Linked DNA regions of Homo sapiens. The protein of the gene in region 2 interacts with the protein of the main gene of each other region in a pairwise test. Each region holds a gene or a part of one and is shown on either strand. Other genes may lie near its edges.

What was found.
Region 1: the proteins of SPACA1 (region 2) and SERTM1 interact in binary tests that used the Homo sapiens proteins (3 or more experiments, as listed by UniProt).
Region 3: the proteins of SPACA1 (region 2) and CLDN19 interact in binary tests that used the Homo sapiens proteins (3 or more experiments, as listed by UniProt).

Annotation. Positions count from the first base shown.
Region 1 is NC_000013.11:36,672,107-36,675,856, reverse strand, and holds the start of SERTM1 (serine-rich and transmembrane domain-containing protein 1), read right to left. Parts: upstream 1,838-3,750; 5' UTR 1,673-1,837; intron 513-1,672; exon of another isoform or gene 430-512; intron 1-429.
Region 2 is NC_000006.12:88,057,822-88,061,571, reverse strand, and holds part of SPACA1 (sperm acrosome membrane-associated protein 1 precursor), read right to left. Parts: intron 2,857-3,750; coding exon 2,750-2,856; intron 2,120-2,749; coding exon 1,984-2,119; intron 1-1,983. UniProt on the Homo sapiens protein: Plays a role in acrosome formation and establishment of normal sperm morphology during spermatogenesis. Important for male fertility.
Region 3 is NC_000001.11:42,738,830-42,742,579, forward strand, and holds the start of CLDN19 (claudin-19), read right to left. Parts: upstream 1,408-3,750; 5' UTR 1,235-1,407; coding exon 1,012-1,234; intron 1-1,011. UniProt on the Homo sapiens protein: Forms paracellular channels: coassembles with CLDN16 into tight junction strands with cation-selective channels through the strands, conveying epithelial permeability in a process known as paracellular tight junction permeability.

The DNA.
Region 1 (3,750 bases), on a different chromosome or scaffold from region 2:
GCTGGATCTCAATATTTCCAGATTACTTCTGAGGTTGGCAGAGGCTTCGGCGGCCCTACGATGTCCAGCATTTAAAGGTGACTAGGGCATGGGCTGAGGGAGGCTCTGAGACCAGGCAGCCTCACTCACAAGCCCTCCAAAAGGCAATTTGCTTTACAGATCAACTAAAAACGGTGTTCTGAGTGTGGTGGTGGCGGGGGAAAAGACACTACTCTACTTAGTAAAATGAAGAGAATTTAGTTACAAAAAAGATATTTAAGAACCTCTATGGGCATGATCACAAATAAGCTGAGACACCCAGACTAGTTGTATAATTCAGCAAATTAAATATTGTTTTTTTCAGAGGGTGCATGGGGCTCCGCAAGACTGCATTAAGAGACAAACCCTTTAAGAAAAGACTGTCACTTGTGCCTCTTTTCCTGTTGACAGGCTGTTGTCTGAACAATGAATCCTGGAAGCACCTAGGAGAAGGCACCTAGGAGAAACGTCTTAGGGAGTAGTCCCGCGGGTCCGCCCCAGGACAGTAACGCTGTCAGTTTCCCCGCCCTTTGCACCTGTAGTGCAGACGGTACCAAATGCGATGGCTTTGAGACGTCCTCTAGACATCGGAGCCCATCATTTACCACAAAGAACACTGAAGTACTTACTTTAGCAGAACATTTTCCGAAGAAAAATTAACAGGGAGAGGAAATGAAGGACACTAACAAACAGACCCCATCTCTAGAGTCTGAGATCAAACCCAAGTCCGATGGAGCCCGGGCATCTGGTGGAGGAAAGCGGGCAGGCATAGCCCCAATCCTGGTCCTCAACAAGATATTTCTGTGAATGAATCCCTCTGCTCCCTGGAGGAGGGCACATTACATATCCCTTTCCTAAATCAGAACTGAAGCAATTTGCCCATCATTCGCACACCTCGACAGGGAAAGGCAGGATTCCAGTGTCTCATCAGACCCGGGAAGAGGGGAAGGGTCGCTGGCGCAGTTACCTACTGGGTTTCCGGGAGCTAGGGAAAACGCCCCTGGGAAACGCAAGTGTTCAGCGCCACATAAAACTTCCCCGGATTTAGGGCCACCCTAAGACGGGCGAAAAGACTCTCCAGCGCCTTAGCAGGTGCAAAGCCAGCTGTCAGTGTGCGCATGGCGAGTCCCCGTTCCCGAGAAGGGACGCAAATGACCCTAGAAAATCAGACAGGAGCAAAACAAACCCAAGAATGACCCTCCACACACCACAAAGGCAAAAGCAAACAGAAGGCACCTAGACACACTCTGCAAAGTGTAGAACTGTCTACACTTGCATGGAGGAATCCACCTTGCAGAGCGAGGGTAGACCTTCCCGGTTCCCAGTGTCTGGGACCGAGGCAGGTCAACACGGGGCCAAGGACATTGCACTCAGGGCCCCTCGCGGCTCCTCCTGCAGCCCGTGGAGTCACCCCAAGACTCGGAGAGCCGGGCTGCGATTGCTTCTCGGGACAGTAAGGACACCTCAAAAGGGATAGATTTGGGGGTGTTTCTCAGAAAGGAGCCACATCTCCGGGAGCCCAGATCTCGGGGGAGAGTCTGGGAGGCGGCTCGCCTCCAGGACCCGAGGCCGCCCCAGGCAAGGAGTGGGGCGCTCTCCGCGTAGGGCAAGTTCACCCCCAGAGCTCGGGACCCTGCAAGTTTCCCTCACTGACCTGCAGGTCAGGACACGCGACTTCCCCGGCAGGTCTCCTGCGCTAGCGGTGGGGCGGTGCTCCGGTCTGGACGATACGCGCCCGCGAAGCCGTCCTCGGGAATGTTGGGCGCAGCGGCGCGGCGCGCAGTCTGGGCGCACGGCGGACAGCAGGCGCAGCGGGAGTGGATCCGGGCTGCCGGCCCCGCACAGCCCGCGCGTCGTCCCTCCGCCCCTCCTGGCCGCACAACCAATGGCCGCGAGCGGGTCCCACTCCTCACCGCCCCCTAGTCTCGGCTCTAGCGGGCGCTTGGCTCTAGGACGGCGCCCAGCTCGGGCGAGGGAGGAGCTTGCGCCACCATTGGAAAATCTCGGAGGACGAGGAGGCGTTGCGCAGGGAGCCCATCTGGGGAAGGCAGGTGTAGTGGGTGAACTTTTTTGTGTGTCGGGGGGAGGAGGGGGGAGTGGGGAGGAGGGCAGTTTTTTTAGGGCTCAGGGGCCTTTCTCTGCAGATGAAAGCATCCACTTCTTGCCAACTTTCTCCTCCTCTTACATCTTTTATGAGTTCCTCGCAGCCCCCACCCAAAACAACTACTCTGGGTGCATCATCGCAAGCCCAGCTCTGACTGAGTTGCGTGGGGCATGGCCTCATCCTGTGATGAGCTTAACCACAGACAGCCCTTGCTCAGCCTTCGCCGCGTGCGCCTCTGAATCCTATACCAAATCATTAAATGAGTCGAATAGGATTGGAGTTTCTGTCATTGCCAGGGAGACAGTCAGTCATGAGTCCCTACTAGGGAACTGGCGTAGAGAGTCATATATCGTAACAGAACTCCGGAAAAGGAGGCTTTAACTGATCCGACCAACTTCAGTTACCAGTCAGTGCTGCTACCTTGACCAGAAGACTCTCTCTCTGTATTCCTGTTTTTCAGCTGGAAAATGAGAGACTTCGATCACTTGGTGGCTGCGGTCTGTTTCACTCTGACATTCAACAATATTGTTGCTCTGTGGCCTGTAAAGGGCTGAACTCCTGGGAAGTGTTGGTGTGGCTACCTGTTCCTTGAGCCCCTACTCCATCTGGTTCTGCTGTCTTCACCGTGAGACCTATTAGTGGCCAGAAAAGCAAATCATGCACAATACAGAATCAGGCCACCCAAGTCTCAGTGACCACCAACACATGCACGTATACTGCCACCCACCAGGGCCCGGCTCCTAGGAGCCTGCTACTTCCACCCATGTTCAATTGTTCTCCACGTAGAGATAGGCAGGGGCACCTGGCTTAACTCTGAAGCTCCGTGGTACATAAGTAAAGGCTCTCTGTCTCTCCCCTTCCTTCTCTAGGGCAATTGTGGGTGGGTGTGAATCTCTCTTATGTGGATCCTTCTGTGCCTGATGTAAAATGCAGGAGGATGGAATGAGCTGTGTTGTCAAGAGGGCAGATTCAGAGAACCACTTCCCTCCGGGCACACTTGGATTGGCTTCCTGAATTTCACCTGTTCATGTGCCATTCTCATGAGTTACCTTACATCCATCTACAGTCTGCTCCATTATGCACTTAGTAAATTTTACCTTAGATTTTTACTTGGCTTCATCGTAAGCAATAATATCTATGAAATTATTGGTTTGTGAGATACCAGTTGTATTTAATATTTTAATGCACAATGAAATGAAGGCATAAGTCTTCCATGCTAAAATCATTCTGAATATCACTGGTTGTTCTCACAACTCACTTTTTGAAACACTAAGGTGTATGGGGGGGCAGTTAGAACTGTTGACCTTCAAAACAGTGGTCCTCAAAATTTCTTTGTGCATAAGATTCCTAGGCCCCAACCCTATTGTCTGGTTCATTCATACTCTACATGTTTGTTTGTTTGTTTTGTCTCTCCCCTTCCTTCTCCAGGGCAATTGTGGGTGGGTGTGAATCTTTTCTATGTGGATCCTTCTGTGCCTGATGTGATCCTTCTGTGAGGAGTCTTGCTCTGTCGCCCAGGCTGGAGTGCAGTGGTATGATCTCGGCTCACTGTAATCTCCACCTCCCTGGTTCAAGCAATTATCCTGCTTCAGCCTCCCAAGTAGTTGGGATTACAGGTGCCCACCATC
Region 2 (3,750 bases):
CTGGTAGCATAACTCCAATTTTTGTCTCCATTTTCACATGGCTGTCTTCTCCCTATGTCTGTTTCTCTGTGTCTTCACCTGGCATTCCGCGCCCCACTTTCCATCTGTGTTTGTGTGTGTGTGTGTGTGTGTGTGTGTGCGCACAAGCATGCCCAAATATTCCTCTTCTTATGAGGGCACCAGTTATATTGGATTAAAGGCCCACTCTGCTCTAGTACAACCTCATCTTAACTAATTACATCTGTAAAAAGTCCTATTTCCAAATAGAGTCACATTCTGAGTACTTCAAAGTATCTTTTTTAACAATGCCTAATTATGAAAGACAACTATTGTGGGAGTGAAAAATCTGATATTTAAGTGAATGGATGAGAATTTTTCACTAGGGAAACCATATTTACCCTAAAAATATCTCAATTACATATTTGTTTCATGCTAGTACCATATTGTGTAGACATTTCTAGCCAAAACATTTGTTTGATTTCTAATCAGCCAAAGGGGTCTGTTGCAGTGGTGTACCCAATTGTCATGTTTAAAGAAATTAGTAGATACTGGAGTGTTTTTAAAATATTTTGTCATTCAATCAGTGCACGTACTGAGATGGCAGAGCTATCCCACCATTCCTGGACTGCTGCTATGAGAGAGAGAAGTTAACTTTGTCTCAATAAAGGCCTGACATTTTAGGGTCTGTGCTCCAGCCTTTAACATATACATTACCAAATGCATGCTCCCTTCTAATTATGAGAGGAGTTAACCACACTGAATTGTCCTAACAGGGACGAGATAGTAGGACAAAGACTGAGAATGGCTCCACACACCTTTAATATCATGAACGAGGGCTAGTTGAGATATTTTTTAGTTTAATGATGTTTTTATTCTCTTGCCTTTTTTAGAGCTTTATTGAAAATGATCCTTTTAACGACACCTGATATCCCAATAGAGGAATAAGATTATTAGCTTTCACCATGAAGATGTTTCTAAACTCATTAAACAGCATATCAAAGGAAGTTTAAATAGTAGTTTATTTTTTAAAATCACCCTAAAATATTTTAACCTGTTTTCATTTCAATAAAATGGTTACGTTGTGCGGTATCTTTAAACTACAGCAGAAGCTCTTTGTGTTCAGAAATAGCTTCAAGAAGTCCAAAAACTCCTTTAAAGTTACATGCAACTTTTGGCATATTTGTGTATGTGGACATTTTTCTGGAAAAAGGATCCTGAGCCTTGATAGGATTCTGAAAAGAACTTGTGACCAAGTCCCCACATCCCTAACAACAAATTTGATAACAACAATTAGAACAGTTAAGAGCAGCTGAACAAAAGGAAATAATTACCTGGATATGTAAGCCATCATAGATTAAACTGAATATAGGCAAATGGATCTATCTCACAAGGAAAATATGGTTTCTAATACATAAAATGACATTCAGGACAACATTTGCATTTTGTGATATATACATTTTTGAGAACTGTATTAGTGCTTCATCAAAAAACATTTGTTTCAAATATATAATTTTTAAAGAGTCATACTTTGACATCGTATTTCTTAATTTTATTTACTTTACTGAATGAAAATTTTCATAAGCATCCATGAGAATTCCATTTATCCATTTTCACTTTTATAATGAAAGTAAAAGCAAGAATATAATTCAAGTTAGAGGACTGTTCTCTGAAAACACTTAAGAAATACACCAGTTTCCCAAAGTGAGGAAATTGTGACTACTTTGTGAAAAAGAAATTAAGTAGTATCTTTTAGAAAAGTCTAAATGATGTAAACCAGTGGTTCTCAAAGTGTGGTCTCTGGACCAGCAGCAACAGGGCAACTTGTTAGAAATGGAAATTCTTGTTCCAGTCCCATCCCAAATCTACTGAATCAGAAACTCTGGGGGGAGGGCTAGAGACTGGTGTTTTAACAAGCCTCTAAGTGATTTTAATGCTCTTTAAAGATTGGCATATAAGCAAACCAAGACATTGCTGGACACTTACCACTGCTCGTATAGACTGTGAATTTAATAGTTGCTACTATTTCATTATTATCCAGTGTGTCACACTCGAAAGCCAAGGGGTGACTTTCCTTGCGTACTTCTAGGATTGCTGAATCATTTACAAGTATAATGGATTGCTATTTAAAAAGAAAAAAATAACAAAGTATCAACATTTTTCATGTACACTTACCAGGAAACAATTTATTTCCCTTAAGGAAAGGAGGGTTACTGTCTCTCTTAGCCTAGTTGAGTAATTAATGATCTACATGGATTTTCAGTCACACAATCCAGACTTCAAATCCCAACCCTACCACTTCCTGCCTGTGTGACTGTGGACAAGTTAGTTACTTACTTGTAAAAATGGGTTTAATGATAGTGATTACCTCAGAGAATTGTTATATGGATGAAAAAAGGCTCTAGCACTCAGTGTCATGTCTGGCACTTAATAAACCCTTAATTAATGTTAGCCACTGCTATCATTATACAACTCCTATATAAGCCAATGAAAACCTTCCTTCCGAAATGGAATACTTTGTGTAAAATAGACGTTTTAAAGTTCTGATTATAGCTGGCCCTTAGACTTATGTAAAGTTTAGTCCTAGTAAATAATGAAAATTTTAAAATTCCAAAATAATAAAGTTGTATAATTCTTAACTTCGTTTTGGCAAACTGCTTTTAAAAAGAAAGTTTTCTGAAAGCCATCAGAACTGAGAAACAAATTTTATCACTCACTAGAAAGCACCAGGTTATATCCATTCATTACTCACTTGGTCTTGTCTTAGAAGTTTCCACATATATTTGAAACGATTTAAGGGAGATGTGTGAATACATGCCAATCTAACACTTTCAAGACTTTCTGAAATTGGTTTACCCCCTGAAAAAAAATTAAGCACATAAATACCATTGGGCATTATAAATTGCTTTATACACGAAATTACTTTTTTTTTTCCTGAGACAGGATCTGGTTCTGTCACCCAGGCTGGAGTAGAGTGGCATGATCTTGGCTCACTGCAATCTCTGCCTCCTGGGCTCAAGCCATCCTCCCACCTCAGCCTCTCAAGTGGCTGGGACTACATGCACATGCCACTGTGCCTGGCTAATTAAAACAAAATTTTGTAGAGATGGAGGTTTCACCATGTTGCCCAGCCTGGTCTCAAACTCCTGAGCTCAAGTGATCCTCCTGCCTCGGCCTCCCAAAGTGCTAAGATTACAGGTGTCACAATACTACTTTAAAAAGCAACCTCCAGTTTTAAAAATCAACTATATGCTGGAAGTTATCAAACATAATTAGGAGTTTGAGTGTAGAGGAACAGAAGACTGATAGGTGCAAAGATAAAGTCACCAAAAGAAGCAGGTGAGGAGACACCATGGCTCTCTGCTCCTTATGCAGAATAAGTTGTAATTGACCTACTGATCTGTTAGACTAAACTATGAGATCTATTAGTGGCTTCCAATGTACTGGTTAGGGACTCCCATTAGAGATACTGAAATTTCAGAACAGCATAATGTGATATGGAACAGCTGTCAAAGTTCCCATTTTAAAGTCTACCAATCTACTGACAAAATGACATGACCAAAGCATCAAAAGCATTTCGCCACAGGACAGCCTCAACTATAGACCCTATATACAGTAAGCCTCCAGTGTATTATAGAGAATATATGTTCAATTTTAGATGTCTCTGAAAAAATGTGAAGCAAAATCAGAAAGTTGCTCAGAACTATAACTGTTTGAAGAAGTGGAATTTAAAATTTTATGATTTCCTTTGAG
Region 3 (3,750 bases), on a different chromosome or scaffold from region 2:
GTAGTATGATTCACTCTGCTGTTGCTTTCTGGCCTGGGGACTCCCTCTTGGGCTTGGCCCATCCTCCCAAGCAGCTGAGGGCAGCTCCAGGGTCCCCTCAGGTTTGGTAGGTGGAAGAGCTGGGGGTATCTGAGGCCCAGCTCAACTCAGCCTGAGCCCCGCAGCAACCCCTCCCCAGCAGCCATTCAGACAACAGTCACTTTCCCCTCTGCCCATGGCAGCTGGAAGCTTGCCTCTTCACGGGTGCATGGGTCCATCCTGGGCCCTGGGGGGTGCTCAGGAGACCTGGGTCCCTCAGCGAGGCTAGATGACCTGCCTGAACTGACCTGCCTGAACTGGCACAATGGGGCTGGTTGAAGGCCGCTCTGCTCCCAGCTCCCATGGGGAGCAGATTGTCCCTGGGGGCTCCTGGGCAGATTGCAGGTGGATCACCTCCACCCCAGAGTTAGAACTTCGGCGGTGCCTGTCAGGCTCATCTCCACACCCCAGAAGGAGAGGGACTGCATGCAGACACACCTGTCTGTGCATGCATGTGCACGTGTGTGCGTGTGCATGCGTGTTTGCATGCATGTGCATGCACCCATATGCTGGCACACAGGCCTGGGAGCAGGACTAGGGAGCAGGTGTGCATCATACAGTGTGTGTCTGTCTACTGACTGTGGGGAGAAGTGGATGAAGGGTCTTAACTGAGTCTTTCAGAGTGCCACAGGTATTAGTATTCCCCTTTAGAGATGAGAACATCACAATGGGAAGAGGTTTGGTGACTAGTTCAAAGTTATAGTGACAGAGCAGGAATCTGGACCCACAGCCGCCAGACCCTAGAGCCCTCCCCTCCCACAGGGCAGCAGGCTGGCCTGGACCGTCAATGGGCACAGGGCAGTAGTGGGGGAATTGTAGAGCGGAGGCTGGAGGTTGGAGCCCAGCGCAGATAGCAGACTGTGAGGAAAACTTGCTCCAGACTCCCCTGCTGTTCCCACCTCCCATCTCCCACCCCGCCGGCCTGGGGCCTACCGTCCAGGGCGAGCAGCGAGTCGTAGAGCTTGCACTGCACTTGCCCAGTGCTCTGGGAGGCGCAGGACATCCAGAGCCCTTCATAGAGGCCCACGGCAGTGATGATGGCGTCGCCTGCGTAGGAAGACTGCTTCCACTGTGGCAGGGCTGTGCTAGCAATGATGCCCACCCAGCCACCCAGGGCCAAGAAGTAGCCCAGGAGCTGGAGGCCTGAGTTGGCCATGGCCCAGGAGAGAGGACCGAGGGTCCCAGGACTCAGAGCTGGGCCAGGGTGCCAGCAGGGGCTTTGGTCATGGCCAGGTGGGAGGAGCAGCTGGGCAGGGGGAGCAGCGAGAAGGAGGGTCAGAGGCAGAGAAGGAGAGGTGGTGCGGCGGCAGCGGCTGGAGCAAAGGCAGTGGCTCTGGACTCCAGAATGCAGGGGGAGGCCCAGGGGCTGGAAAAGGCCAGGGCCCGCCCACAGCAGCCGCCTAAGCCAGAGCAGGGTCCCCAGCAAAGCTCATGCCCAGCCCCCTGGGGGCGGAGGGCCGGCCCATGGCCCAGGTGGTGTCCCTGCCCCGCCCCGTTCCGCAGGGATAGGGAAGGGAGGGGCTGAGAGGAATGACCCAGCTGCCCTCTGGGCCTTTCCCCACAGGGAAACCCCTTTAGGAACCTGATTCGGGTGTCCTAAAATTCGGATAATCCCTAACCCAAACACCAGCCCTGGGAGGATGGACTTTGCTCTTGCAAGGCTGATCTAACCCTTGGGGTTTTCTGCCCTTTGACTTTAGGACAGAAGGGAAAGGAATGCCAGTTTGCAGCGGGTAAAACTAGAGTTAGATGTCAAGGATAACTTTTTGGCAGGGGCTCTGAAGCTGGATGTGGGGAGGCTGAGCTAGCGGTGGGGTGTTGGGAAGAGGGGTCATGGGTACCTGGGAGCTGTGTGTGCCAAAAATCAGGGAGGCCAGACCAGGAAATATGTACTGTGGGGTCTTTTTGAGATCTGAGGGGGACAGAAAAGGGGCCCTATCGAGGCTGGGCCAGCGCTGGCTGCCGGCCAGCAAGGGGCCTGGTGGGGAGCTGGGGAGACAGCCCCAACCTTCTGGCATCAGCCTGAAGGAAGGCGGATTGCTCAGCCCCTTAATCCCCTTGCTGGCTGGCTTAGTAGCTCCTGCTGGGACTGGAACACTGGGCCCTGGCCCCCAACTCTAGAGCAGCCTGGCGCGGAGCAGTGGCCTCTGCACATTCCCGGGGTTCAGGCTGCCCGCTCCGAGCACCCCCACCTCCCTCTTCTCTCTCCCAGTCTCTCTTGGTCTTCAGGAGTAGGGGAATGTTTAACTCTCTTCCACCTCATTAGCAATCCCCTCACGTTCAAGTGGGCCCCACTGCAGCGTGGGTGCAGAAGGAATGTCACAACCCTGCTTCCACTCCTGCCAGCCCCCCGCCGCCCCCTCCGTCCCCAACAGCCCACCCACCCTTCCTGGACTGCACTGGGGGAAGGCAGGGTCCTGCTGCAGACCCCTGCTGGCTTCCTCCCCCACAGCCCCAACCCCCCTCTGAAGGGACAAGTCCCCAGCCCGCTCTTGCATTCTTCACGTGGCTATGCAAACGAGAGGGTGCCAGGCGCTGAGCAGACAATGGCAGCCCTGTGTGCCCGCCCAGGGCGTAGGCCTCTGGTATGGCCTGCAGCTCTGGCCAGAGATGGGGGAGTGGTCTGCCATCTGAGGGTCAAGGGTGGGCACTGCTTGACCTGTGGTGGTGCACACTGGGACCCTCAGGCTCTCTGTGCTGGGAGGGTCAGAGCCACGTGGATCCGAGCACACACAGACCTGCTTCCTGGACGACCTGTGGGTCCCAAGACCAAATGGGGTCTAGGACAGTGGCAGAGAAGTAAGTCCTGAGCTCAGATTCTTCTACCACAATGACAAGACAGTAGGATTGAGGGGAGCCTCCTCCATCCTACTGGGGCCGCAATGGGCACCCTGTGACCAGTGCATTAATTTAAGCATGTGGGCCACTGTTGCAGGCAGCAGGCCTCCTAACAGTAAGGAGACCACGGCAGAGGGAGGTAATAGACCCCCAGCCAGGAAACAGCAGGAAGGGCTTTCCGCTTGAAACTGTGTGGTGCTGGCCCCTGTGGTCTCTCTCCCACACTCCTCCCTTTTTGAGGGAGGCACCAGGTCCAGATTGAAGGGGGCTGCGGGCAGTGACAAGATGCTCCCCAGGGGTGACCTGAATGACTGTGGTGCCTCAGGGTCCTCACTCTAAATGGGAGGTTTGCTTCATGGAGTTGTGGTGGTCCGTTAAAGTAAGCGATGTCTGGGGAGGGCAGGGGCCTGGTGCTGGGTAGCTGCTCCGCATATGCTCCTCCAAAGGCAAAGTCCTCCTTCTCTCCACGCTGGGCCTTGGCCCCTTTTCCCCGCCATCTGCAGGCGCTCTCTCTGTAGGGAAGATCCAGGGGTCATTCTGGTTTCAGGGGGACCTGGGTCAGGAGCCCAGAGGCCAGTCAGAAGCATGCCTCAGAGACCATGGGCTGCGGCCCCCTCCATTGACAATTTGAGGGCCAAAGAGAGAAAGGGAGCCACGGGTCCACAGGGCCACAGAGCCAGCAGGAGGCCTGCATGCTCCTCCATCCTGGGTGTTCCCAGAGCCTCTTCGTGATCCGGAACAGTGCTCTCCTCTTCCTCTGAAGTGCTTCTGTTTATCCCTTCTCTTTGTTATTTGAGGCTTTGAGTCTGTTCTACCAAAATATTCTCTCCTACC